Linked DNA regions of Homo sapiens. The protein of the gene in region 1 interacts with the protein of each later gene in a pairwise test. Each region holds a gene or a part of one and is shown in the gene's direction. Other genes may lie near its edges.

Region 1 (7,024 bases):
GGTTGCATTAAAGTAGAAAAAAAAATTGAACAGAATGACAGTATATTACAATTCCCATTGAAGTGTTGCATTTGAGCTTCTGGGATTTCTACCTTGGGGAGAAGCTTCATATTTAACCCTCTAGAACCTGCCACCATGACTACTAGAGTGAGAACTTGGGTTCTTGGCACCATCACTGATGCGGCTCTGTGGCTCTTCCCATACGATAGGAATGAAGGTAGAATGAGGCCTAGGAGAAAGAAAGGACTCTCATTCCAGAAGGAGTCTTGGGCAGCTGCCCGTGGGAGCCAAGAGTGGACCTAGTGATGTCAAGCCAGGAGGAGCTACAAACCACAGGGGAAAAATTAAAACTAAGGGATAGCTTGAAGGGATAGACTTTATTTACAGATCTGGAAGATGGAGATGGAAACGGATTCGGAAAGAATGAAATCAGTAAACATGCCAAAAACTAGCCTGTAGCCTCCTGTTTCTAGGAGAAGATGCCTTTGAGAAACAGCATGCTGTCATGGAAAAGGCAGAAACAGGGAGACAGGAGCTTCTGACTCTTGTTCTGACTCTGCCACTGATGAGCTGTGTGGTTTCGGGCCAGTTCCTTCCCCTCTTCATGCCCCATCATCCTCATCTGTAAAAGGACAGGTCAGACTAGACGATTGCCCTAGTCCCTTTCCACCTTCCACTGGGATTCTAAGGCAGTGGTCATTATCCTTGAGAAACCAGTCACTCTCCCTCCATGCCTAGATTCAGAAAATGCCCACTGCGCCTAGTTCAGTGATAACAAAGGGGTTCTCAAATTGTAGCCTATAAGTGACTTAATAATAGATTAATCTGCAGTCAAGAAGCTTGCTTCAGGACAGGGAGATCGTTCTTTGGACTGAGACAATTCCAGGACAATTTCAGCCTGACAATACTAGGTTTATGAGTTTTCAGTTCAATCAACATCCATGTATTGCTGCTGTGGAGCCCAGAGAGCACTTCCTGGAAATTTTTAGCCCTGAGCTGATGAAGAAAGCTTTTTCTAGGATCTGTGCACCACCCCTTCACCTACAGACACACACGAGCATGGAAACATCCATGGTAGTTCTACAGAAGTGATGAAGGTTAGTATGGGTTGATGGAAGTTGCTCACCTAGAATGAGAGAAATACTACCTCCTTTGCATGCTGAAAGCAGTTTGACTGGCTTACATAAGAGTGGGCCCAGGCCCAAGATGGTGAAACCTTCGTACTGGTGACTCAATCTGCAGACTTGGATGGGACTTTCCCTGGAACCTTAGCTGGGCTGCAGCTTTATTTCCTAGAATCTCCTCACCTGTTTGTTTTCAGTTTAGAGTTGCCGACAGATAAATCTGCATGAGATTTAGAAGGTGGAAGTGAAGTAGTTGTCTTAAAAAAATTTTTTTTAACCCTCGGAAGGTCCGTGTAGGGCAGGCTCTGTTATAGCTTGTGCATGACATTCCTGATGTGCTGACTCACCTAACTGGCATGTGGCAGTGACTGGCCCACAGTTTCTCCAGCTCCCCACATCTCCTCCTCCAGCTTTTCCAAATCCTGGGGCAGGTGCATGTGCAGCTCCTTGGGGAAGGCTCCTGCTTATTCTGCAGATTGTCTTGCATCATCAAGATTGGTGCTTGTGAGAGAGAGATAGGTGCAGCTCTAGTTTGTCCCCAGTCTCTGTCACTTTACAGCCGCCTTCCCTCCCAACTGTCAGAACAGCTGACTGCAGGCCCAGTGTCAGACGCAGAAGCAGCAGATTTACACAGACGGCATGACTAGTGCCTCTCATTCCCTAAGGTCTGATTCCTCTGATCAATCCTTAATATTACTCATAGTTGTTCTGCTTCTCCCATCACAGGCTTTTAAATATTGTGTGGGTCAGAGAGAGTCAAAACAGGTACCACTGGAGAAACTACACCCCATTCTGATTCCCAAAGCATAGCGGCAGATGTCTGGAGAAGTAGTTCCTTGGCCAAGGTAGATGGACAATGTCATGGTGCCATAATCAGGCAAAAATAAAGGAATCTGTCCTCACTACAGCACAGCCTGTCCCCAGGCTCCTGATTATTTTTGTTTTTACCACCTCCAAGGAAGACATAGTGTTTGTCACTTAGGATGATGACCGAGCCACACATAGGTAATATAACCCAGTAGCCAGAGGGAGTGGTTTTTAAACATTTGGACAGATCTTACAGTACTGGTCAGAAAGTGAAAAAAGCAGTGTGGTCTTTGGGTTTGAGGTTTTGTGCCCGTGACCGGGTCATGCAGGTTACTTTTGCTCAGTAGTTGATCATTTGTTCTGTTGTTTTTGTTGCAAGAGAGACATCCAGACCTACTCACACCCAAACCTTGATTTCTCCCCCTTCATTCTGAACCCTTCAGTTTATTAGTATTTGCCCATTCGTTTAGTCCACAAATGCATCTGTGCTAGGTGCTGGGGATAGAATTGTGAGTAAAGCTAAACAGTCCCTGCCTCGTGGATGTTTACATGCTATTGGAAGAGACAGACAGGAAACAATTGTGGTAAGTCCAACAAGGGAGAGGTATTAGGTGGTAAAAGAGTGTCTCCTGCCAGCTCTGACCTGCTGAAGGGGTCAGAGAATAGTAGAAACCAACTCCTGGTGAGGGGCTGGTAGAGCAGTGGGCAGGCACTGGCTGGCAGCTCACTGGCACCTGGCGGAACACCAAGAGGTGGGATGGTGGTGTGCCGGGTCATGGTTAACAGCCAGTTCTCAGGGACAAAAAGGCCTGATCCTAGCATTTTCCAAAAAGACCAGAAAAGTCCGAAAGCCCCAGCCCTGCCTGCTGCAGCTGCCTCCACCTTCAGGCCGCAGCTCAGCAGCCTGAACCTTCGGGTGTTTCAGAGATATCTGTTCCCATAATGAAATCCTCACCCATTCAGCCTGAGAAGCCATAGCTTCTTGCAGCAGAAGAGACGAGAGAAGGAGTCTGTGGAAAACTGCCTCTGAAATTCCATAAGAAATTTCTCAAGAAACCTGATTCTCCTTTTAGAAACATTAATGGTAACTTAGCATTTTAGCTTCTACTCTGGCTCTCTCTCCGCCCTTGGTCCTACCACCACCCCCTCCTGAAGTCTGACCAGGTCTCCTCTAGTTGGTAATGGCAGCAGTCAGCATGCCTCTCACCTGTCCATCAGTGATGAGGGGTGATTACTCCCCTTGTCCCTGCAGGCTCCTCAGCACTACCCTGCAACCAGCCATACCCAGGGACACACAGGAGGGAAGGGAGTTAACTGGCTCCATCCAGCTAAGTGAGGGCGGGTGGGGGTCTGGGCAGCAGGCTGTGAGAAGTTCACAGTTTGTCCATGAGCTTTACGCTTCCTGAGAAGAGAATGCAATTAAGCAGGTAGGTGCATTTGGCTTTTTAACACTTCTGTAGTTAATCGCTCTTTCTCTGCCTTCTTTCTTCTGGCCTTGTGCTCCTAGTATCAGCTGTGTAATCTGATAGCTTCATTTTTTCTTTTAAATGGCTGGCATCTCAAAGACTACTATATGCATGTTGATTAGACTTAGAACATTTTGGGTTTTATGTTAGTCTGAATCCAGAATATCAGAGACAACTATTTTCTCTCTCTGCTTTTTACTTTTTTTGTCTAACTCTTCATCTCATAGGCCTCCCAGTAGCATTGGATGCAGGAAAAAATACATTGACGGTGAAAAACAAGCCGAACCAGTTGTAGTTTTAGATCCTGTTTCTACACATGAACCCCAAACCAAAGACCAGGTTGCTGAAAAAGATCCAACTCAACACAAGGAGGATGAAGGCGAAATTCAACCAGAAAACAAAGAAGACAGCATTGAAAACGTGAGAGAGACAGACAGCTCCAACTGCTGATCCATAAACCAGAAGCCTGACATGTTTGGAAGTCCTTTTCAATAAGCACATGATTAGTGTTGTTATATTGGCAAGGGCTGTAGACATTCTGCTCTGGTCACTGTATTCAGAATACAGGTTCTTTTCTGGTGTCACTTTTGTAAGTAGCAACTATAAACATAAGTAAGCTGTTTAGCAAAACACACATTCCTAGTAGGTTTTGGTTTTTTGATCTTTATAAAGATGAGGTTTTTTTCCTAGTTACTGTATTAAGTATGACTTCTTTTAGAAGGTTACAAAAAAATTCAGATGTTGATACCTTTTTAGGAAATGTGCATACCACTCATCAAATGGAATGCTGAAAGTTTGAGGTGCTTGTATATAATCGGATAAACAAAACTGATCAACCCAATGTGATTTTAAAAGCCCCCAAAGAAGCTTCTGTTTTGGGTCTGATCCTCTTGATGGAGAAACTGCAGCAGCATGGAAATTGTTGGGTACTGTGGCATACAAGTTATTTTCTACAGTAGACTGAGATAAACTGAAAACTCAGGAGCTGGCATCAAACTCGTAGTCCCATAGTCAGTGTTAATTACACACATTGTTAACTATTGGATGAAAAATACATGCTATTGATTGTGTCCAAAGCCTCCCGAGGACCTCCGTGGGGATGCTCTGGTAGCCTGAATACAGAACTGAGGTGAAAGTCCAAACCTTGAATTTTACAGTAGTAAGTTGGTAAACCATGTGCTCTGTGCTATGAGTTAATTATGTTTTCCCAAATACTAATGTGGCACAAGTACCATATTTTATCAGAGTTCTTATGTACAGTATGGTGAAGATAAGTGACAAGCACACATTTTTCTTGCTTCACTGCTGTTCTATATTACACAGGTTTGTTGTTGTTTTTTTTAAAAAAGAAATTAAGCAGTAGTTAGTCTCTAAAAATACAATGTTTCAGGCTACCACAGTGAATAAATAGAAATGTAATCAGGGATTAAAAAAAAAACTTATGCAGCTTTTCAAAGTTGATTGTTTCAAAATTGGTGTTTATTTAAAATAAGTGGTAATGTACTTGAATGCACTTTTTATGACAATGATTCAGTAATGGTAATTTTACTATTAAAGAAAGTGAAAGGTTTAGTTTTGTTAGCATGGCTCAGCATGTAGCTGTCAGGTGTTTTTCACCTAAGGGCAAAAGAAAATGATAGTAATAATTGCAGTAGTTGTATTGTATTGTATTTTTGCACGTGTGGTAAGCATAGGCTTGAAGAGGTGGGTAGGCAGGTACATGTACTTCCTAAATTTGGAGATAATTATCTTTCTGTAAGTTCGTTATGCTTGACTGTTTCCATGTTCTCCCAATAATGATTTTATAGTTACTTATCACTTTACTCATGGAGAATTAAAACGTAATGTTTTTCAACTGTATCTTTCTTTAACTGGATAATACTGCTATATGATATGCTTACTACAGACTGCATTAATTCACGAAACGAATTCTGTTATGCTGTAATTTGAACTCTCCTCACCACAACTTATTAAAAAGGCACCAATAGTTTCCCATTAAGGGTCAGTTGTGGTTATTATTAACGTTTCTGGTTTAGTTCCCCAAGCTTGACATTCTTTAATAGAAAATTGTATATGATTTGACAACTTTAGTAATTTTTAATAGTCCCTAAGATGGTTTATTGAGTTTTCTTTCATGTTTCTTTGTGCTGTCTTCCTTCTTGCATCTGTGATCTGTCTGCCAGCATGCAACTCACACACATTTAGGAATATAAAAATATGTACACTGTCTTTCCATATTTCATCACACCATCACAGAATAATATGGTTATCAAAATACCCTCCTTTCTAGAGTAAGAAGTTGCCCTTTGGGTGAAATGTGTTAGCTGGACTAGGGAACAATTAGTAACAGGTATTTTGAAAGTATTCCTGCCTTTTTTAAGCTGCTTACTTTCTCTCACTGTGATTACAAAGCATTTTAAATTAATTTGACATGAAGGTATTTGATGGAAGATATTCACTCACCTTTTTCTGCCTACAGTTTTTCCCTTTTCACTTTGGTTTTGAGGGGGTTTTGCCCCTGGCTGGGGTGACACTGTCAACCAAAGCAAGGGATCCCAAATAGGAAGACATAGGAGAACCGTGCTTATATCTGCAAGGTATGTTCATAGCTATTGCACACACAAAACTTACATACGTCCTGCTTACACAATTTTAAGTTGGAAAAGACTGCATCTTTATGTTTTTGATTTCTCTAAAAGGTTATTTATGCTTCCTTCTGTTTGGGAAAGATAAATTAAGTCTTGTGCGCTATAGAGGATTTTTTTTCTTTAAGAAAAACGAATGTTGATGCATTTTATAGCCCGAGTGAGGAACAGAGATAGAGGTACTTTGTGCCATTGCTATTAAAGAAAAAGAAAATGTCTCTTTTTTTTTCTGGAAGAATAAGATTTTAATTAAAGCACTTGCACCCTTTTGTATGTGAGCTGGTCTCAAACAAAGTCCTCACCCACAGCAGTTTCAGCAGCTGAACAGTCCCATGGAAGTTCTGACTGGCAGGCATCAACAGGGCTATTAGCACCCAGCATAGTTTGCCCTGAGTACGGAGGATGGATGCTTTGGCTCTAACTACTCACCAATAATTGCTCCTTCCTTACCTTCTTTGTTAATGGTAAACTGCTGGAAATGGAGTAGTACAGGTAACAATTATTTTTAATTGTCTTTCCAGACCAGTTTTTGGTTGTGTGTTCAGTAAATGATAGTCTGTATCACAGCCTTCAAGTCTGGATTATTTTTCTAAATGCATACTCTACCTGTTCAGTTACACTCGTTGTGGAACAACATTAGCTTATATACCAGTAAGTTGTCGAGAATGGATAACCATCTGTCATTATCACTGACCTTCAAAGACTCATCAAGCAGTCCCTGCATAAGGATTGGAGTGGTTTGAAGTTTCTCTTCCAAGCACTAACATGTCCCTATCCCACAGTCATTTTAATTTGGTATGTGACTGTTTCTTTCATTTCTTTCACAGATAATATTATATATACAGTTATATAAATATATTTCATATTAAATGTTATATAACACAAGAGAGAGAAAGTATAAGTAGAAAGAGTGCCTAGCACCCTAAGAAATTTAAATTAAAATGCTAATTATCCATTGGTGAGTGCAGTCTCGAGGATAGGT
Region 2 (7,359 bases), on another chromosome or scaffold:
TCTTTCTTGTGTGAGATGCAAGAACTCTCTCTTGGGGTCTGGATTGGGACCCCTTTCTGGTAACAAAGACCCCATGGACCAAGGGCATAAAAAGAAGGGATGTCTAAGACTTGCTGGTTCTATGGCAGGCAGAGGCAGAAAGAGCCCCACCATCATTCCCAGCAAATGGGAAAAGTTCCCAGTTGCAGATATTAGGGGTGGGATGGGGCGGGGGTAGTCAGCAACCATAGACTTAGACCCTGAAGAGGCAAAAAAGGAGGGCCATGTTCTTGGGTCAGCAGAGCTTCTACTCAGCTTCTTCAGCCTCTAGCTCTTTCCTGGTGCTAGTAGCACATTCTCTAGTGGAGGCATCCAGATGGCAGGGAGGGTCCAGGAAACAGCTGAACATGCTGAGCAGGCCTCCCTTGTCCCCGCTCCCCATGGCCCCATGGATCATCCGGTGCTGCAGCTCATCTCATTGGCTGGCTTCTGGTTACTCATCTCTCCTCTTCTCCATCTTCCCAGCCTGTGGTTGCCGTGGAAACATAGAACAGTGACCTCACCATAGGATGAGGGCTGGGGAGATGCTGTTCTTGGCAGGCGCTGGTCTTGCTGCCTGCCAGATGTTATATCCACATCTGGATCTGCCAAGGGCAAGACAGAGGAGTACAAAAAGGGACAGGGCTCACATTCTTCCCCAAATGTAGTCAGCATAACAGAGGAAGAGGATGCAGGTAGATCAGAGGGATGAGGAGAGAACTGTACATACTTAGAAGGGAGAAGGGTGTAAACCAGGAGGAAAGGAGATGGGGTGTGGCTTATGGGTTAACCTCGGTGACCCAGGTCTGAGCACCATGGCGAGGTGAGGGAAGGGCAGTGAGGGTAGTTGGTCTGAGGTTTGTCGAGTAGAGCTCCTCAAAGCCCCGTGCTGCTCAATTTGGACAGGCCCAAGAGAGGGAGCAAATGGATTTTCTGGCAGTGACCCCACCCCAACCCATTCTGAAAAACCTCTATAGCCCCTTTTTCAGTTGAAGCCCTTTCTAATCCTGTCCCAGAAATAATAAAACTGAGGATTAAAGAAGCAAAGCAATCTGCCTCAGGTAACTAACTCAGTAGGTAGTGGCAGAGCTCAGACTAGGTCTTAGGTGTCTGCACTATCCCTGGAGACAATAACAATAGCAGCAGGAGGAGCAGCAGCAGTGAACTTTCGTAAGTCAACCATGCTTAGCATTTAAATGTATTATCTCGGGCCAGGTGTCGTGGCTCACACCTGTAGTCTCAGCACTTTGGAAGCCGAGGCAAGCAGATTGCTTGAGGCCAGGAGTCCAACACCAGCCTGGGCAACACGGCAAAACCCTGTCTCTACCAAAAAAATGCACAAAAAATTAGCCAGGCGTGGTGCCATGCGCCTGTAGTCCTAACTACTCAGGAGGCTGAGGTGGGAGGATCCCTTGAGTCTGGGAGGTCAAGAATGCCATGAGCTGAGATCATGCCACTGCACTCCAGCCTGAGTGACAGAGTGAGACTCTCTCCAAATAAATAAATAGGCCAGGCGTGGTGGCTCATGCCTGTAATCCCAGCACTTTGGGAGGCCAAGGCAGGCGGATCACTTGAGGTCAGGAGTTCAAGGCCAGCCTGGCCAATATGGTGAAACCCCGTCTCTACTAAAAATATAAAAATTAGCCTGGCGCGGTGGCCCGCGCCTATAGTCCCAGCTACTTGGGAGGCTGAGGCAGGAGAATCACTTGAACCTGGGAGGCTGAGGCAGGAGAATCACTTGAACCTGGGAGGCAGAGGTTGCAGTGAGCTGAGATAACACCATTGCACTCCAGCCTGGGTGACAGAGTGCAAGACTCCATCTCCAAAAAAAAATCCCTTCATTTTAAAGATGAAACTGAAGCTGGCGTGGTGGCTCATGCCTGTAATCCCAGAACTTTAGGAGGTCCAGGTGGGCAGATCACCTGAGGTCAGGAGTTTAAGACCAGCCTGGCCAACATGGCGAAACCCCGTCTCTACTAAAAATACAAAAATTATCCAGATGTGGTGGCAGTTGCCTGTAATCCCAGCTACTTGGGAGGCTGAGGCAGGAGAATTGCTTGAACCCAGGAGGTGGAGGTTGCAGTGAGCCAAGATCACACCACTGCACTTCAGCCTGGGCAACGAGACTCCTTCTCAAAAAAAAAAAAAAAAAAATGGAGACTCAGAATGGCTTAAGTGAATTGCCCAAGGCCACACAGCTAGTACCCAACAAAATTCAGATCAGAACGCAGATCTGCCAGCAGCCATTAGCCCAGCCCCAGCTCTCCATCATTGCATTACAAGGGCCACATAAGGAGTCAGTTCTAGTTCCTGGCCACACAGTCCTTGAGAGGAGGCCCTATGTGTGAGGGCTGCGACCTTGAGTCAGAAATCATCTTTTCCCCCTCCTCCTCTCCTGGCACCTGTTCCAACAGTGAGATCACCAAGGCTCCATGCCCAGCCCTGAAGCCTGTCCCTATAGCTTTGGCAGAAATGAGCCTCTGAGTCTTCTGGCAACTGGACCGTCCAAAGGAATCAAGATCTTAGGGTGGGGAGAGGGCTCTTCCTCCCTGGCCTTGTTCTCAGAACAGTCCAGGGAAGGGAGGCAGGGTTTGCACATGGAGAAACAGAGTCCCAGGAAGGAGGGCCTGCCATACTCTACGCACGTGGCAGGCCTCTGGGCTCCTGTGTTGGCTCCTGCAGGCCCACCCTGGACAGGCTGCTGCTGGCTGAAATTCAGTTCGGCACTACTCCTTGGTGTGCAGGGCCTCCTGCCATCCCTCAGAAATTCATTTATACCTCACTTCCTTTGAGAAGTCTACATTGGGCCCTCAGGTCAGGACAGGACAGGACTCCCTTTAGAGGCACCACGCTAGTTTTATGTCTGGCTGCCCAGAGGTGAATGTGTGTCTTGTTCCCTGTTGTCTCTCTCCAAAGCAGGGCCTGGCACAAAGTAGGTGCTTTATTAACTGCTGAATTAATGAGTGAGCTCCTCAGAGCTTCAACTTGTTCACCTTTTTAAAAAGAGAAAATAATACAGTAACACCTACTTCATGGATTTTGCTTTAAAAGTCCAATGAGGCCAGGTGTGGTGGCGTGTGCCTATAGTCCCAGCTGCTGGGGAGGCTAAGGTAGGAGGATCCCCTGAGCCCCGGAGTTTGAGGCTGCAGTGAGCTATGATGGCGTCACAGTACTCCAGCCTGGGAGACACAGCGAGAGACTTTGTCTCTAAAAAATAATAATAAAATAAAAAGTTCAATGAAACAATACACCCAAAGCCCTCAGCATGCAATAAATAGCAAGACAAGGCAGGTCTTATTTTTACTGAAAGTGCTTAGTAAACTATACAGTGACAAACCACCGCACAACAGGCTCTCGAAAGGAGGCAGCAAATTACCCAAAAGTGCAGGCGGCTTGCTAGTGTGCACAGGCCAAAGAAAGGGCGGCAGGTGGGGAAGGCAGCCATGGGCCTTGAAGAGCTGACCGAATTGGCAGAATTTCTGCAGGAGGGGAGCTGGGAACGACCTGAGCTAAAGCTCGGAGCTGTGCGAAGAAACCGGAAAAGCCCAGAGCACTTGCAGGGGCGGGTGGGGAGCTAGATGGTGGGGTGGGGTGGGGACGGAGGAGGGCCAGCAGGAGACATTCCGCAGGGAGGGGCAAGCACGTGTGAGGCGGGCGGGGCGCGAAGGGTCAGGCTTTTGCTCAAAACAGGCAGAGGACAAGGTCAGCTCAGCCGCAGACCGAGCCGCTGGTGACTGTCTCCGCCACCAGGCAGTGAGAGTGAAGGGAGAGCGCGAGCTCTGAAGCCCGCTAGACTAAGCTTGCAATCTGAGCTCCATTCACCCCCTCCTATTTCTTGAGACCTTGTCAGTTCCCCTGTGAGCCTCGGACTCCTCACTTGTAAAACGAGGACAGATGCCCGTGCCAGAAGTCAACCAGAGCTTTCCCCGGCGTGGGCACCAGCCCAAGGGCGTTTTGCTTTTCTAGTCTCATCTCTGCTCTGACGCTAAGCTCAAAGAGGGACTGGGGGACGGGAAGATATCCACCATGGCATGCGCCCTAGCTCTCGGGCTGGTGTTGGCTGCTTCCTTCTCAGATTCCAGAGTGCCTAGAGGCCAGGAAAGGGAGAAGGTCCTACCAGCCTGGGGTAGGGACTCGGGGGCCAGGCACTGGCGCTGACGCAGGCTAGCAGGGCGCCACTGGCTGGTCCCCACCCACCTCGGTGGGTTGGGGGATGGGCGCACCAGCCCCTCCTGGGTGAGCCCTAGCCTGGGGCTTCCTATTTCGGGAGCCGGGGGCGTGGGCCACGTCTCCTCATGTGATGCGAGGGCTATTTAAAGCGGCAGCCCGGGCAGGGAGCCGCCGTCGGAGCCCTTGCACGCCTGCTCTCTTGTAGCTTCTCTCAGCCTAGCCCAGCATCACTATGGTGGACGCTTTCCTGGGCACCTGGAAGCTAGTGGACAGCAAGAATTTCGATGACTACATGAAGTCACTCGGTGAGCAAGCCGCGGGGCTCAGGATGTTGGCTTGGGGACTGGCTGGTGGCGTGCCTAGCCCCACGCAGCACTCCTGCCGCATCCCTCCTGGTTAAGACTGGGGAATAGGGGAGCGCGGAGATGGCAGCCTGGCCTAGAGCAGGTGGGGCCTGTTCAGAGGGGGCTTTGGTGGTCCAAATCTGGTTAGAGACCACGGTAGGGAGGTGGTGGAAGGAGGCAGCTGTGTGGGAGGCTCTTTCCAGGAAGAGGGATATGTGATTTGGAGGTAGGAGGAGGGTTTGGATAAAGAACACTGATCACAGGAAAGGGAGTGTAGCCAGGGGAGAAAAAGAACAGGGGCATGGGTAGTTTAGAAATTGGAGGAGACTGAACCCAGAAAGGGAATGGGGCAGCCAGGGAGTGTACAATGATGTAAACAAGTAGGAAATACCTAGGAGGAAAAAGATTAGTGGGGAAAAAACTGTGGATCAGTGAATCAGATATGAGAAGGACGTAAGACAGGAACCTGCAGTAAGCAGCAATCCCCATCTCTGCTTGGTTAGGGAAGAGAATTCTTGCTGGAGAATGCCCTTTCTCACCAGCCAGTCTGACCTTGTCCTGCAGTCTATGTATCCAGGCCTTCATCACTGTCTGTGAGCCTCGTGGTAGGGTGGGGCAAGAGGCCCATGATCAGCTGGGCCTTTCCTGCAACCCAAGGCTCACCTATCTGTGCGAGGGGTAGGCAGAGAAAGCCATTGGACTTCTGATGTGCAGTAGAGGGTCCCAAGGCAAGGTCAAGACCTGGGAGGGAGGATCACTGGTTTAGGAGGATGTGGAGAACTGCTGTGGTGTTGGGATGGAGAAGAATCAGGATTCAAAGAATCTCACAGGTGAGGAACTTGGAGATTCCCATACCATCTAGTTCAACAGGGAAACTGAAACCAGGAGAGTAGAAATGTATTATAACAATTCCACAGCAGAGCCAATATGAAAATCTAAGGTTTCTAGATCTGTAACCCAGAGCTCTTCCCACTACCCTACAGGCCCTGCGAGTGGGAAGAAAAGTAGAAACTGCTTAGCTAATGATTGACCTCAGCCCTTCTTCTACTGCTTTGGGCTTAGATGGAGAGGTCAAAGCTCTCAACGGCCTCTACCCTATCTTGGGCGCTATGCCCAGTAATTCTAGGCAGGCAGTCATTCTTAGAGGAGCAGCCCCCAGCCCCCACGAACACAGCCCAGCAGCTATTGGGAAGTTGGAATGCCCAGATTTAGTTCCTCCTTCCAAAGCTGGGCCAGAGCTGAGTCTTGAATTGAGCTGCAACAACTTTACCATTCTTGTTCCCTTATTCTGCCCCGAGTTGGGTCAGCGGGCTGGTCTCCCTGAAGTCCTGTTATCTTTCAGCAGCTTATGTTAAGGCAGCCAGCATTCTCATCGTAGGAATGGAAAGCCTGGGAAAATACCCTCCTCAGCTCTCAGTAAGTAGTGCTGGCTTCATTTCTAAGTAGAACCCAGATCTCCCTGAGTCTCCTAAATTCTGTCAGCTCAATATTCTTAGTTTCTCTTGGTTCAGACCCTCACTCATCCCGCAGTGGTTTCCTTTTCAAACACTCCATACCTCTGGGTAGATCCTAAGTGAACAGAGCTCCCAGTGCCGTGACAAGGTCCTGCTCTGTGCAAGGGAGTGTGATTGGCCTGACTCATCCTGATACCAAGGGGCAATGCCAAGTTCCTCACTGGCCAAGCAAGGGTGGGCTGACAGCATAACAGCAGAGGCAGCCCCTGCCCCTCCTGCTGTAGACCTAGGGCTCTCAAGGGGCAAAGAGGTCCCGTCTAGTACCAGTGACCACAGGCACAACTGCTGGCCTGGATTGAGTATGTGCTGGACAGAATCGCCCAGTGAAAATAGTCAACAGTTTTGGAGCCGAGGTTCAAATCTATGTCAGTAGTTTATTCTCTTTGAATTTCGACAAGACACTTCGCACTCTTCATTGTAAACTGGGGATAATCTACGCTTCGAGGCTGTTACAAGCATTAAGTAAAACAACCCATGTAGGGCATGTGCAGAGTACCTAGCTTCCAGCAAGCACTATGTAGCCAGGTACATTTGGAGACTTTACACACACCACCTCACTACACTGGGCTGCCTCCTGCCTCACCTTTGCCTTGGAAGACAGTTCAATGTTAAGCTGCTGGGGGGAGAGGGGGCAGTCATGATTAGTTCTTTGTTCTTTACTTGGTTGCAGGACACTTAGGACTTTGCCCAGTACCCAAGGAAGCCATGCTTGGGTCAGGAAGAGAGTCTCTGTAAAGCCTTAGACTGGGAGTCAGGAGACGGGTTTGAGTCTAACTCATTGTTGCTACCGCTTTAGGCTCCTCCTGAATCTGCACAATAGGACAAATACTTCCTTTGTACCTAACTCCTAGATCATAGATAACAGGCTTTGAAAATGATGGGTTGCCATGTATAAGGGACAAGAGCACTAACACTTCTTAGTTTCAGGGTAAAAACTTCCAAAGTTGGAAAACTCCTATGCCTAAGGCTTTGGAAGGGAAAGTCTATGTTTCTCTTCTTTCCTCAGCCTTATTCCTAAGGCTTTGAGAGCTTTTCAGGTGCCCTGGAAGGCAGCCTTATGCTCCAGCCTTGGGAGGTAGTATAGCTGAGCACTTAAGCAAGCTCTGGACTCAGACAATTCTGGGCTTCAATCTCAGATTTGTGACCCTGGGCTTTACCTCTGTTTTTGTATCTGTAACGTGGAAACAGTCTTCAGAAGAACAGGAAGAACTAAATGAGATAACATGTACAGTTCTTACTACACAAAAAGCTCATAGTACTTAATAGTAGCTTTTTTTTTTTTTTTGAGGTGGAATCTCACTCTGTTGGCTAGG
Region 3 (7,838 bases), on another chromosome or scaffold:
ATACAGAAAGAGAAGAAGTCAAACTATCCTTTTTGCAGACAACATAATCTTATATCTAGAAAACTTCATAGTCTCAGCCCAAAAGCTCTTTAAGCTGATAAATAACTTCAGCAAAATCTCAGGATAAAAATAATCAGTATACCAAAATCACTAGCACTCCTATACATCAACAACAGTCAAGCTGAGAGCCAAATCAGAAACTCGATTCTATTCACAATTGCCACAAAAAGAAAAAAATACCTATGAATACAGCTAAAAGATATCTGCAAGGAGAACTACAAAACACTGCTCAAAGAAATCAGAGATGAAACAAATGAAAAAACATTCCATGCTCATGAAGAAAAACAATAAATGTCATTAAGATAGCCATAATGTCCAAAGCAATTAATAGATTCAGTGCTGTGCCTATCAAACTATTAATGGCATTCTTCACAGAACTATAGAAAATACTTTAAAATTCATATGAACCAAAAAACAGCCCTAACAGCCACGAATATCCTAAGCAAGAAGAATTGAGGAGAAGGAACTCCCTCTTCTCCAAAGCTGGAGGCATCATGCTACACAACTTTAAACTATACTATAGGGCAGCAGTAACCAAAACAGCATGGTACCAGTACAAAAACAGACAAATAGACCAGTGGAACAGAATAAAAGCCCAGAAATAAAGTGGTACACCTACAACTAGCTGATCTTCAACAAAGCTGACAAAAATAAGCAATAGGAAAAGGATTCCCTATTCAATAAATGGTGCTGGGATAACTAGCTAGCCATAAGCAGAAGATTGGAAACAATAGGAAAAGGTCTCCCTATTCAATAAATAGTGCTGGGATAACTAGCTAGTCATAAGCACAAGATTGAAAATGGATGCCTTCTTTACACCTTATACAAAAATTAACTCAAGATTAAAGACAAAAATTTAAAACTCAAGACTATAAAAACCCTGGAAGACAACCTAGGCAATACCATTCTGAACATAGGAATGGGCAAAGATTTCATGCTGAAGATGCCAAAAGCAATTACAACGAAAGCAAAAATTACAAATGGGATCTAATTAAACTAAAAAGCTTCTGGACAGCAATAGAAACTATTAACAGAGTAAACAGACAACCTATACAAATGAGAGAAAATATTTGCAAACTATGCATCTGACAAAGGTCTAATACCCAGCTTCCATAAGAAAACTTAAGCAAATTTATAAGAAAAAGCAAACTACATTAAAAAGTAGGCAAATGACATGAACACTTTTCATAAGAAGACATACATGCAGCCAAAAAGCATATGAAAAAAAGCTCAACATCACTGATCATTAGAGAAATGCAAATCAAAACCACAATGAGATATCATTTCACATCCAGTCAGAATGGCTATTGTTAAAAAGTTAAAAAAAAAAAAAAAACAGATGCTGGTGAGGTTACGGAGAAAAAGGAATGCTTATGTACTGTTGGTGGGAGTGTAAATTAGTTCAACCATAGTGCAAAACAGTTTGGTGATTCCTTAAAGACCTCAAAACAGAAATGCCATTCAACTCAGCAATCTCATTACTGAGTATATACCCAAAGGAATAATTCTATCATAAAGACAAATGCAAGCATATGTTCATTGCAGCACTATTCACATAGAAAAGACATGGAATCAACCGAAATGCCCATCAATGGTAGACTGGATAAAGAAAATGTGATACATATACACCATGGGATACTATGCAGCCATAAAAAAGGATGAGATCATATTCTTTGCAGGGACATGGCTGGAGCTGGAGGCCATTACCCTTAGCAAACTGATACAGGATAGAAAACCGAATATTGCATGTTCTCACTTATAAATGAGGGTTAAAAGATGAGAACACATGGATACACAGAAGAGAACAACAGGCACTGCATCCTATTGCAAGGTAGAGAATGGGAGGAGAGAGGGGATCAGGAAAAATAACTAATGGGTATTAGATCTAATACCTGAGTAACAAAATAATCTGTACAACAAACCCCCATGACATGAGTTTACCTATATAACAAAGCTGCATCTGTAACCTTGAACTTAAAGTAAAAAAAATTAAGGTATAGTTGGCAGGTAAAAATTATATACATTTATGGTGTACAACTTGATGTTTTAATGTATGTATATACTGTGAAATCATGAAATCAAGCTAATTAACATATCCATCACCTCATATACTTATCATTCTATGTTGTGAGGACATTTACTATCTAGCCTCTTAGCCATTTTCAAGTATATGAGATATTATTACTAACTGTAGCACAGTAGGTCTCCTGAACTTATTAATCCTATATGACTAAATTTTTGTACCTTTTGGCCATCATCTAGCCACTCCCCTGTCCTCACTCTCATGCCCTGACAACCACCATACTACTCTATGCTTCTATGAGTTTGACTTTTTTAGTTGCCACTTCTAAGTGAAATCATGCAGTGCTCATATTTCTGTGCCTGCCTTAATTCACTTAGTACGTGTCTTGCAAGCTCATCCATGTTGTCACAAATGATAAGATTTCCTTCTTTTTCAGGGCTGAATAGAATTCCATTACATACACACAAACACACACACACACACACACAGAGACACACACATAATATATTTTCTTTATCCATTCATCGATCGATGAGCCCAGGTTGATTCCCCTTATTGATTATTGTGAACAATGCTGTAATGACATTGGTCTAGGCAGTGGTTTTTTGTATATGACCCCAAACACAGGCAACAAAAGTACAAATAAATGAGGTGGCATCAAAACAAAAAGCTTTTGCACAACCAAAGCAACAGTCAACAGGGTAAAAAGATAATCTATGGAATGGGAAAAAATATTTGTAAACTATCCATCTGACAAGGAGTATCCAAAATATATAAGAAACACTCAACAGCAAACAACTCAATAGAAAAAAAATCTGATTAAAAAATAGACAAAGTATCTGAATAGACATTTCTCAAAAGAAGACATACAAATGTCCAACAGATATATAAAAAAAAATGGTCAAATCACTAATCATCATGGAAATGTAAATTAAAACGCAAACTACAATGAGAAACTACCTTACACTGTTGGAATGGCTTTCATCAAAAAGACAACAGATGAGTATTGAAGAGAATGTAGAGAAAAAGGAATCTTTGTATACTAATATGGTTTGGCTCTGTGTCCCCACCCAAATCTCATCTCAAATTGTAATCCCCATAATCCCCACATGTCAAGGGAAGGATCTGGTGGTGGGTGATTGGATCATGGGAGTGGTTTCCCCCATACTGTTCTTGTCATAGTGAGTGAGTTCTCACGAGATGTGATGCTTTTATAAGGGGCTCTTCCTTCATTCATTTGCTCTCTCTTGCCTGCCACCATGTAAGATGTGCCTTTGCTTCTCTCTTGCCTTCTTCCATGATTGTAAGTTTCCTGAGGCCTCCCCAGACATGCAGAACGATGAGTCAGTAAACTTGATAAATTACCCAGTCAGGTATGTCTTTATAGCAGTGTGAGAATAGAATAATACATACACTGTTGCTGGAAATGTAAATTGGTACAACCGTTATGGAAAACAGTATGGTGGTTCCTCAGAAAATTGAAAATAGAGCTCTCATATAATCCTGCAATCCTACCTCTGGATATATATCCAGAGGATATAGAATAAGTATGTCAAAGAGATAGCTGCACTCCCATGTTCATTTAAGAAGCTTCTTACAGTGGAGAGCAGAGTTTTGATTATTTACCTGTTTCTGAGAATCAATTCTTTATGTGCAAGTCTTTAAACTTTATTAACAGATTTACTTGTCGGTTTATTTATTGTTTGTTCTATTTAATCATTCCATTAGAAACTATTTATATCTGGCACATTCTTGTCAGCAACTTTCTTAAAGCTGAAACAGAATTTACCTAATTTATTCCAGTAATTGTTACTAAAGTACAAAGTGTAAAGGAAAAATTCATTGTGTATATTTCTGTGATGTCATGAATTATTAAAATATAATTATCTGATTGCTTTTGGCATACTTATAACTTCAGTTACCGTGGGTTTAAGATGCTGGTCACATTTATGACGGCACCCACATATACACACCCTCCTCTCATACATGGAAAACAAAACCTGCTGTTGTTTTCACTGGCCAGTGGGTGTCAGTAATTTGACCTGGAGACTTGGGGGAAGAAAGGAGGAAAGTGGAAAAGAGGTTCCTTTCTTCAGATGCAGGGAAACAGTTTAAATTTTATTGTTAAAGGATCTGAAAAAACATCGTTTAGGGAGGGGATGCTGACATTCTGGAAGGGGAGATTTCCCATAAAGGAGGCCACCAGACAGTTGGGCTGCATTTTCTCTCTGTGTGGCTACCTCTTGTTCTTTTTTGACTGAGTCTCACTCACAGCCCTGCGAATCCTTCGGGCAAGAAGCAACAAGTTGCAGGCTGCTTCTACATCTGCCTAGGAAGAGGGTGTTAGGTGGGAGGAGGGCAGATGACTCAAGCGTCTCTCTCCTGGACCTTAGTTTCCACCTGTAGACTTTCTTTTAATGTAATCTAGACTCTGTTAGGACCTAGGACCTGAGACCAGTCCAACAGGGTCTCCCCCACACTGGGCACTCTCCAAGAGTATGCCTGGCAGTCAGGCTCTGAATGCTGGCATGCTGCCTATTCTGGCCTTTCCCTTTTGTTGCCCTAAGGGCTGTGTGTTGTGAATCAAATCACTGGGCAACCAAGTACCTTCAAAAACAGCCCCAAGCTCTCTGGAAACTACTTCCTATTCCAGCCAAAATTGCAGAGAAAGGAGGGCATCAAGCTTAGGGGACCAATCCCTGTCTTTCTACCAGTCCCTGATAACTACTCAAGCTCCCTTTAAAGAGGCTCATATTGGAATACTCTGTTGACAAGTAGATACCACTTCACCTCTGCTAGGGTGAGCGCTGGTAGCTCCTCCCTGTTAAATGCCCATCTCAATGCCTCTGCCCTAAGTGAGTTGTGCAATAAATGAGCTGTCACTCTGAACAGGTGGGAAAGAAGTGAACTGCTTGTTCACTTGCTGCTGTTGCCACTGCTGGTACAGAAATAGAAGGTAAGACAGGTGAGAACTGCTTTTCCTTCTATCAAGAAAGATTCCAAACTGAGGCAATGCTTTGCATTGAGTCCTGGGGTTTTGTGGTTTTGGGAACCAACAGTACTCAAAGTATTTTCTCTTGCTAACTGCTTCCCCTCTAGGCCATAAAGCCTCTTTTCTTTCTTTTTTTTTTTTTTTTTTAAAAAAAACACAGCACAAAAAAACAAAGACAAAAAACCTCCAAGCTCCCTTCAGTAGTTGCTACACCTTCAGATTGAGACATCCTTCCTCATTTACAAACCTCAGCTGTGTCTGGGGGCAGGGCCACAGTGAAACTGCCAGGAGCAAAAAGGCTTCCAAGAAAAAGTACCACATCAGATTGGAAACTGGGGACAGATCATTCCTGGGATGTGACGGGCACCAGAATGCTCCCTCTCCAAAGGATCTAAGGACCAAAGCTGACAGTTTCTTTACTTGGTAAGTTTTGGGTGGTTTGCTGTGTAAAGCATATCTGAGAACAGGTATGATTGAGCTCATCTTCCTTTTCTCCTTATTGCAAGGGTTTGTGAATTCAAGTCTGTGGACTGAGGTGGTGGGGAGCATCCAATTAGAACTCCATTCACATGTAGCTCACAGTCATGTGGGCTGTGCTGGGGATGGTCCATCAAGCATTTAGAATAGGCTTGGTTTTGGAATGCAGTGGATCTGATTGCTTCTTGGCAGCTTCTCTTTCCCAATTATGTTTGGCTTAGTCTGATAGTCAAATTACTTTATAATCCCTAAGCTGATCCAGAAAGTAAACAGAAGAGACAGAGAGAACGCTGTCTAAAAAGAGACTGGGGATGGGGCAAGGAGGATTCTGGTTGGATTTTCAAAATGTTCCCTGAATAATCCACAACCCATCCCAAAGAATGGTGACTGCATATGATACCCTAGCTCTTTGTTAAGCTCAAAAAGCTGACTATAACATGCCTCTTTAAAATGCTGGCCAATTAAAGCCACTATGCACATCTTCAATTGTTTTGTTCCCTTAACGAAGCTCAAGAAGGTATATTACAGGTATGGATTTGATTAAAAACGTAAGGTTTCTCATAATGAATATATGTTCTGGTTTAAATAATTTAGAAATTTTCCTAAAATCTAAACCCAGTACTTTGCATTACATCAGAAAACAAAGCCTTGATAATTTGATTTCCAATCTGAAAATGGTGATTCCACTAAAGTGAAGCTAAAGTTTTCCTTTGTATAATTTACAAATGAAGTGTTTGCATGAAATTTAATGCCTTAAGCAAGACAGGCAGAATTGTGAACCTATTTTAGAGAATGCACTGGTTTTTCTAATGGCATTATTTTTGTTGTTATTGTTGCTGAGATGGGGTCTTGCTCTGTCATCCAGGCTGGAATGCAGTGATGCAATCACAGCCCACTGTAATCTCAAACTCTTGGGTTCAAGCGATTCTCCTGTCTTAACCTCCCAAGTAACTCAGAGTATGTGTATGCACCACCATGCCTGCCTAATTTTCTTTTGTAGATATGGGGGTCTCACTATATTGTCCAGGCTGGTCTCAAATTCCTGGCCTCAAACAATCCTTCTGCTCCGGCCTCCCAAAGTGCTGGGATTACAGGCCACTGTACCTGGCTTCTAATTGCTTTATAGAATTCATTATTCACATGAGAATATATTCACAAATTGTTAAGTATCTCAGCCACTTATTAAACCAAGTTTAAAAATAATAATAATAACCATTTTATAATTTTAAAAAGATTTCAAGTTGAAGAACCTTAGGTAGCAGGTGTCTTGAGTAGAGTATGTATGTACTCAAATGATGTCAAACTGCAGGCACTACAAATATTGTCTGGTCAACCTCCACCTTACCAAGTAAAAATTAATTGATTTTGTTATTTAAAGGTTAAAATATAAAATAATAACAATGTAGTTAAGCCTTCATGGTGTAATGTCTAGAAAACTTCTTGCCCTTTCTCTCCAAAGCTGAAATGCCAGATGGTGAGGTTAATTAACACACAACAATCTTGAGATTTAGCTACTAATTTTTTATTTTTATTTATTTATTTTTTTTTTGAGACGGAGTCTCACTCTGTCGCCCAGGCTGGAGTGCAGTGGCGCGATCTCGGCTCACTGCAAGCTCCGCCTCCCGGGTTCACGCCATTCTCCTGCCTCAGCCTCCTGAGTAGCTGGGACTACAGGCGCCCGCCACCACGCCCGGCTAACTTTTTGTATTTTTAGTAGAGACGGGGTTTCACCGTGTTAGCCAAGGTGGTCTCGATTTCCTGACCTCGTGATCCACCCACCTCAGCCTCCCAAAGTGCTGGGATTACAGGCATGAGCCACCACACCCTGTCCTAATTTTTTTTAAGTTATACTTTTAAGTGCTGGGGTACATGTGCAGAATGTGCACGTTTGGGGTACATGTGCAGAATGTGCAGGTTTGGGGTACACGTGCAGAATGTGCAGGTATACACATGCCATGGTGGTTTGCTGCACCTATCAACGCGTCATCTACATTGAATACCCTTTATTTCTTTCTCTTGACTAATTGCCCTAGCATTTCTCCTAATGGTATCCCTCCCCTAGCCCCCTACCCCGCCACAGGCCCTGGTATGTGATGTTCCCCTCCCTGTGTCCATGTGTTCTCATTGTTCAAGTCCCACTTATGAGTGAGAACATGCAGTATTTGGTCTTCTGTTCTTGTGATAGTTTGCTGAGAATGATGGCTTCCAGCTTCCTCCATGTCCCTGCGGAGGACATGAACTCATCCTTTTTTATGGCTGCATAGTATTCCATGGTGTATATATGCC
Region 4 (7,024 bases), on another chromosome or scaffold:
GACATGGATGAAGCTGGAAACCATCATTCTCAGCAAACTATCTATCGCAAGGACAAAAACCAAACACCTCATGTTCTCACTCATAGGTGGGAATTGAACAATGAGAACACATGGACACAGGAAGGGGAACATCACACACCGGGGCCTGTCGTGGGGTTGGGGGGAGGGGGAGGGATAGCATTAGGAGATATACATAATGTAAATGACGAGTTAATGGGTGCAGCACACCAACATGGCACATGTATACATATGTAACAAACCTGCACGTTGTGCACATGTACCCTAGAACTTAAAGTATAATTAAAAAAAAAAAAAAGAAAGAAATACTGATACTAGAGTAGAAAGTCAAGGGAAATTCTCTTCTAAAGGATAACTCTCTGAGGCCTTGGGTCAACAGAAGGAAGTGGTAGAAGCCTTTTAACTTGCTAATGAAAATAGGCATGACCTGAAAATGGCCTGAGGGGCCGTTTGGGACCATCCTGGCCCAGACCAACCAGTGTGCCTGTCTCTCCCCCACTCCTTCTCTCATCTCTAAAATCCCTTTCTTGGCTGAGGGTATAGGGACTTTTCTAAGTTTTAGGTTTGGGACTTCAGCCAATTCCCATCCTGCTTCAGGAAGTTCATAACAGCTATTCTAAGAAACTGGATGAAGTGGAGACTTGGCCAAACAGGGCAAGGCCCATACTGCCTGTTTGCCCAGCTGCACAGTGAAGACAGACATGGAGGAAGGTGTGCCTAGAGCCCAGGCTCTGGCATTGGATATGACTGCACTCTTGGCCCTCTGCCTTTGTTCTGCACAACCAGCCATCTACTTGTCCTCATCAGCACTTACCTATCTCCTGGAAAGGGAGAAATGGAGAATGTCTTGAGTCAAAAAGTACTGTGAGGGTTCTCCCTCTATGCAGTGATATGAGTCTGGGACTGTGCCCCTTCTAGAAGCTTTTATTTGTTTGTTTTACTTAGTTACAATTTTTGAATATTTGTTAGTGTGATGTCTGAGGCTAAAACTGACTGGGAAGGAAAGCCTTTGACAAAAGTTTAGTTTCTCTCAGTCAAAATCTCCCGTGTCAGAACTCAGCTCACCCTCAGAAAGCTCTCATTGTCTTTTCACACATCTAGCTCTTGGCACTTCTCTTTAACACTCATAACCCAATTCTAGCTAGACTCTGTGTCCTCAATCATGGGCTAATCTACTATGGCCCTGATTTCATCTTCTTAGCCTGTGTCTGCATAGACGTAACACATATTGCCTCTTATAAATGCTACATGATCCATTTATGCCTTGTTTCAGTGTTTCTGTGTTATCTGTGTGTCCTATTTGTATATAGGCATGTGTATATGTCTGTATTACCTAAGTCACTTGGGCTAAGTCAGTACAGCAAGTCACAGAACTGATACTTGAACCCAGACCTTTTAACCTTGAAGTTCAAACAATTGTATATGTGGCACTGGACTACATCCACCTTTATTTGTTCTTTGTTGAATACTGAGAATGGTTCTTGGCATGTTGAAGGCATTTGATAAGTATTTATTAAATGAGTAAGTGAATAATTATTATGATATTATTATCATATTTGATTCAGTCCCGTGTTAGTTTCTTTACAGGGTTGCCTCTGAGAGCTGACTGCTGGCATATAGTCTTAGCAATGTTTCCATACTGCTTATGGCAGAGATAAGTCTGCCATCTAATGTTTACTCACTTATTTTCTTGGTTGAAAGAATAGTCTGCAGCTGTTCTTTTTCTTATTATATTTTAATTTTTATATATCCAATTTATTAGCTGGTAGTGAAGGATGATGAAGTTTCTGGAATCTTGGTTTGTCTTGTCTGTCTGACTAATCCCTGGGGTGGGGTTTGGATATTTTACAGCTTTTGGATCTTTTCATCCAGTGGGATTGGTCAACCTACCTTGCTGACTATGGTCAGCCCAACTGCAAGTACCTCCGGGTAAACCCAGTGACTGCTCTGACCCTGCTTGAGAAGTGAGTACCTTGTCCAATGGTCTGTGTTGGGAGGTGGGGAGACAGGGATTGGGGGTTGGCGTAGAAGATAATTTTGCCACTGCCAATACCTTGAAAGATAGCCTTGTTCTGGAAGTTGCCATAGGCCCTGGGTGCTGTCAGCAATCTCAGTCACTGGACTTGGCAGGCCAGTCTTCCTCCTGTGGCTTATTAATTCCTGAGCCCCCAACAAGCCAGGCCAAGTATGGATCAGAATTGGATTCTGACATTACCTTCTAGTTTAATGGGTCTCTTACTAGCGTCTCTTACTAGATATGGCAAGAGAAAAAAAAATGGCTCGGTTTGGGGCTCAGGCCAGCCTGGTGAACAGAATGAGGCTGCCCTAGTCACCTGGGGTATGATGATGGATAGTGCAACTCCACAGAACAGATGGTTTCTCTGGTTCCTAGTAGAGAATCCCTGGAAATTATTTAGAATTATTGAAACCTTCATCTGTTCCCAGCTCCCACCCCCTGCCAGACTGAGCTTTATTGTGCTGACTATCCCAACAAAGCTGTGTTGGAGAAGGTGTCTAATTCTTGCCTTAAGCAGTCACTAGCCTGCAGAGGGTTCCCTGCCACAGAGCTGTAGCCTCTCTGAAGCAGAGGTGCTACCACTGAAAGTAAGTTAGGCAGCTCCAGGAAATCTCAGGGCTAACAAATATGTCACCCAGAAGCTGGGAAATGCTATGTATTACAGCCTGGCTCTGGCTTTGCTAATCTATTAGAGAGCTGGCAGGTCAGAGACCAAGACCCATATAAAAAGGCAGGTTTCTCTTGAAATCTGAGAAACTAGTTAAGCCCCAGCTACTTGGAAGAATGCCCTGCATCTAGGCAGTGTAGGAAGTCTACATATATGGCCAGTCAACCATGTCTCAAATCCTAGGAAGACAAGGCTCAGAGTCCAGGAAGTCAGAGTGGAGCCTTAAGCAGAAGGAGAGGTCAAAGTCTATCCTTCTTACTATGTAATATGAAAGGGGGAGAAAAGGGGAAGAGATGAAGGGTAGGCAAGAGCATGATGCAGGTGTATGTATTTGGAGCCAAGAGACTAAAAACTCAGACTGCAGTTTTCTCCTGACCACGTCAGAGATTGATGTTTCCATTTTAACTTTGTTTCCCATGGTTCTCTCTCCCACTGACCTTCCGCCCTAGGATATCTAGAGAGTAAGTATATTATTCACTTGGGCCTTTTCCATCACTTTGAGGCAAGTCCTTCTGGTTTCCTCATTGACACTAATGACTACACTAAAATCCCTAGCCTCTGAGTTGTCCCCGCCCTGACATACTAATCTACTAAACCAGCCTGGTGCCAACTGGCTGGCTGCCTTCTCTATCCTTGGCCCTTACAGTGACCCTTGGCTTACTAATTCCTTTGGGGCTGGGAGTGGCGGCAGGGATTTTCTCCCATTGTGCCAGGTAAAGGGTTGTTCCCATTCAGCTTCTTGGCACACTCAATACTCTTGCTAGTGTGGGGCCTGAAATAAAGCCCTGACCGAAGGGAGCTCCTCAGCAGCCTCCCCTACCTCTTGGTGGCTTTAAAATCTAGAACCTGCATCTCTTATAGAAGACCCTTTATTAGAGGCAAGGCTTAATCCCACAGTTCTTGGTGCCAAGCTGAAAGAAGGGAACATTTTGACCTTTGAGGTGGTGCTTAAATGGTCATATTTAATGGTCATATGTGTCCTTCAAATGGGCTCTGGGATTCCCTTCAGTTATTTACATCTCTCAGCAGTCCTTTACTCCTCCGTTCCCAGGAATCTCTGGATCTAGGAAATACTGGCTTATCCACTCCCTATGGCTCAACAATAGTCTAAAATAATTAGCCTCTCCCTACCATTCTGGAGCGTTGGCCAGTAAAGAAACTATGTGCTTAGCCCTAGCAATCAGAAGAGTTTAAAAGCTTCCTTCCAAACACAGCAGAGCAAAGGGCATCCAGATCACTACAATCCGTATCTCCCAGCCTCATAGGAATTGACCCCTTTACCTGACCTATTCCTGCTTTTCCACAGCCAGTTCTACCATCAGATCTTGACTCTCCTTTTCAACCTGGCCCTTCTTAGCAGGGCGAAACAGAAAGACAAAAGACCTGCTAAAGACATTGAGGGAAAAGAAGTGGCCCCTGCATCATTGAGAGGTGGCCATAGCTGTTAATAAAGTAGAACAGGATATTGGGCTTTCAGAATGGGATGGAAGGTGGGAGGGCTGACTTTTGTTTTTGGAGCATTCCTGAGTAGAAACCAGCAGGCCACCACTAGCCCTCAGGGTACTTGAGTTTATCTTTACAGTGCCTAGTTCCAACTCCAGGTCTTAATGGCCAAGAAATTCTAGCCTTTGTGGCCAAAGACTACCCTCTTTCTCCTAGATAATTACAGGAGCTTCCCTGTGGGAGCCAAAAGCCAGCGGGCTGCCTGTCTCTCAGCTGCTTCCAGGAGTCATGAAATTAATGATAATGTAGGATATTAAACTAAATGTCCTATGAATATAGGAAGTGGTTTTCTTCATTTCTTTTTGTTTGTTTTCTGTTGTTGTTAATGTTTAGATATATTGTATACTCAGCGGAGGAAAGGGAATCTTTCTTTGGAACTATCTAAAACTAGGCCAGTTCTACAAATGTAATTGTGCAACTAGTGTGTTAGGGAACAAATACAGTAATTATCAGAGTCTTAAGGACCCTCGTGCTTTCTCTTCAACTAGCGCAGTCACTTCCCCTTCTTCTTCCCTTCCAAGCACAGGCCTCCACATGTGGGTGGTCGTACCTTATATTCAATGTTCTGAGTTTGCTTGATGAGTAATTCCAGCCTGAAGGCTCTTGAGCTTAGATTAGTGAGATAATTCTTTTTTTTTTTTTTGAGACGGAGTCTCGCTCTGCCACCCAGACTGGAGTGCAGTGGTGTGATCTTGGCTCACTGCAAGCTCCGCCTCCTGGGTTCACACCATTCTCCTGCCTCAGCCTCTCGAATAGCTGGGACTACAGGCACCTGCCACCACACCCGGCCTACTTTCTGGATTTTTAGTAGAGATGGGGTTTCACCGTGTTAGTCAGGATGGTCTTGATCTCCTGACCTCATGATCCACCCGCCTCGGCCTCCCAAAGTGCTGGGATTACAGGCGTGAGCTACCGCGCCCAGCCGAAAGAATTCTTAATTAGTTTGTGGCTATCACTGTTAGCCAGAGCCATACAGCTGTGGTGCTCATTAGAACCTTTTTGCCATATATAATGCCCTTATGGAATATATATATTGTAAATTTATATCATATATACCAAACATAAATGCCCCTGTGGGAATCTCTGGCTTTTTGACTCACTGGCCTCTAATCTGCTCCTCTGCAAAGGGCCACCCACAGTGGGGGAGAAAATGGTGCAGGATTGGCCCAAAGTCCCCTGGGAAATAGCCTGGGGGCAATTTATAGCCCGGTGCCATGTTCCTTCCCTCCTCTCTTCTAGCCTGTCTCCATACAGCCCAGGGAGCAGTGAAGTCAGAGGGCTGGCCCAACTCTGGTGAAGACTGGCCTGCCCCTATCCCAGAGAGAAATCTGTCTTGGCATGTTCTCAATTGTCTAACACTGGAACTAGCTGTGGGATATGGGTCTGGTGTGCAGCAGCTAGGACAAGAGTTAGTGGCCACCAATAGATGTCAGAGGTTGTGGGCCCTCTGCAGGGAATAGCAGATTCCTGAATTCTGTCACAGTTGCTTAGTCAGACTTGGGGGTTCTGTGACCATCTCAGCCTAGTCTTGACTTTCTTGTCCATGTTTCCCAGTTAGGGCTGTCTGTCTGAAAGAACCACTGGCCAGAATTACCCATGGTTTGTGTTCTAGGAATATGCCATCTATGAAGCTTTAGCATGACCCAAAGGTCAAAGGTCCAGGGGTACAGACAGCCATTGAGAACTCAAAGGCTTCTCATGTAAAAAGCTCTGGTTTATGGAGTGAGAGGATGGCCCAGCCATTTGGCCCATGCTTTCCTCAGCACTCTACTCTCTTAGCCACCACACCACCTATGTGCCTTTACCCTGAGACGAAAGGAAAAAGGTCAGTCAAGCCCTTAGTTTTGTTGGGGATAGGATAGAGTAGCCAGCTAGAGTGAGGTTTAGAAATATACAGTGGCCTTCAGTTATTCATGTTCTGTTGGAATTGCTAGTTAAGAACACTTTTCCTGCTTTACCTTTCAAATATTATCTCAAAGGTCCTATCAGGATTTAGTAGGTTCATGAGGTAATGAGTGGATCCTAGACATTCTATAAGGGCTTATTGACCAGCAGAGCTGTTCCCTGTCCCAGACACCTACAGCAGGTACATACCTGCTGAGAGAAGAGAATGAATTAGGTGGAGCAGGTATAAGGGGTAGGGAGATTGACCCCTCCAAAACTGGGTCTTGACCAGTTTCCAAAGGTGACTGAAGTTGGGAGGGCTATAGGTGCCAGAATGCCAGCTTCCTGATGAGTAGGTGAGTGTGGGCCTGACAGTGGAGATATTCTGGACTCTCTCATTACTCTGGGTAGTGGTTAAGATGCATTGCCATCCTGCTTCCTGCAGGTTCTCCTTCCACCATTGTTTCCTCAAACATGTTGCCCTCTTTCTTTCCTTCTCTGTTTAGGATGAAGGATACTAGCCGCAAGAACAACATGTTTGCACAGTTTCGGAAAAATGAGCGAGACAAGCAGAAACTCATTGACACCGTGGCCAAGCAGCTCCGAGGACTCATCAGCAGCCACCACTCATGAAGGGTGACCCCGGACCCACAGAGGCGACCTGCTGCAGCCTCTGTGTCAGTCTGGGGTCCAGCCCCAGCTGACCCTGCATTTGTGCATTCTTCTTCAAAGAGAGCATATGTATTTTTTTATTAACCCCTGTGCAGTATTCACATAACATTTCCCTATAGTAAAAGAGGCACAAGAATAAGCAAGTACATGAGATGTTGCTAGGCTGGGACTCAGGGGAAGTTATTACTACACTATCTGTGTTATCTTAGAGATGGTGGTATCATCAATTCCACAGTGATGAACCACCTTTCATCCATGGCTCT

The links.
Region 2: the proteins of SHTN1 (region 1) and FABP3 interact in binary tests that used the Homo sapiens proteins (3 or more experiments, as listed by UniProt).
Region 3: the proteins of SHTN1 (region 1) and BBOX1 interact in binary tests that used the Homo sapiens proteins (3 or more experiments, as listed by UniProt).
Region 4: the proteins of SHTN1 (region 1) and EXOC6B interact in binary tests that used the Homo sapiens proteins (3 or more experiments, as listed by UniProt).

The regions. Positions count from the first base shown.
Region 1 is NC_000010.11:116,883,167-116,890,190, reverse strand, and holds part of SHTN1 (shootin-1), read left to right. Parts: intron 1-3,624; coding exon 3,625-3,847; 3' UTR 3,848-7,024. UniProt on the Homo sapiens protein: Involved in the generation of internal asymmetric signals required for neuronal polarization and neurite outgrowth.
Region 2 is NC_000001.11:31,370,076-31,377,434, reverse strand, and holds the start of FABP3 (fatty acid-binding protein, heart), read left to right. Parts: upstream 1-4,358; 5' UTR 4,359-4,420; coding exon 4,421-4,493; intron 4,494-7,359. UniProt on the Homo sapiens protein: FABPs are thought to play a role in the intracellular transport of long-chain fatty acids and their acyl-CoA esters.
Region 3 is NC_000011.10:27,035,981-27,043,818, forward strand, and holds the start of BBOX1 (gamma-butyrobetaine dioxygenase), read left to right. Parts: upstream 1-4,834; 5' UTR 4,835-5,048; intron 5,049-5,235; 5' UTR 5,236-5,498; intron 5,499-5,819; exon of another isoform or gene 5,820-6,080; intron 6,081-7,838. UniProt on the Homo sapiens protein: Catalyzes the formation of L-carnitine from gamma-butyrobetaine.
Region 4 is NC_000002.12:72,179,033-72,186,056, reverse strand, and holds part of EXOC6B (exocyst complex component 6B), read left to right. Parts: intron 1-1,869; coding exon 1,870-1,982; intron 1,983-3,151; coding exon of another isoform or gene 3,152-3,167; exon of another isoform or gene 3,168-3,204; intron 3,205-6,595; coding exon 6,596-6,722; 3' UTR 6,723-7,024. UniProt on the Homo sapiens protein: Component of the exocyst complex involved in the docking of exocytic vesicles with fusion sites on the plasma membrane.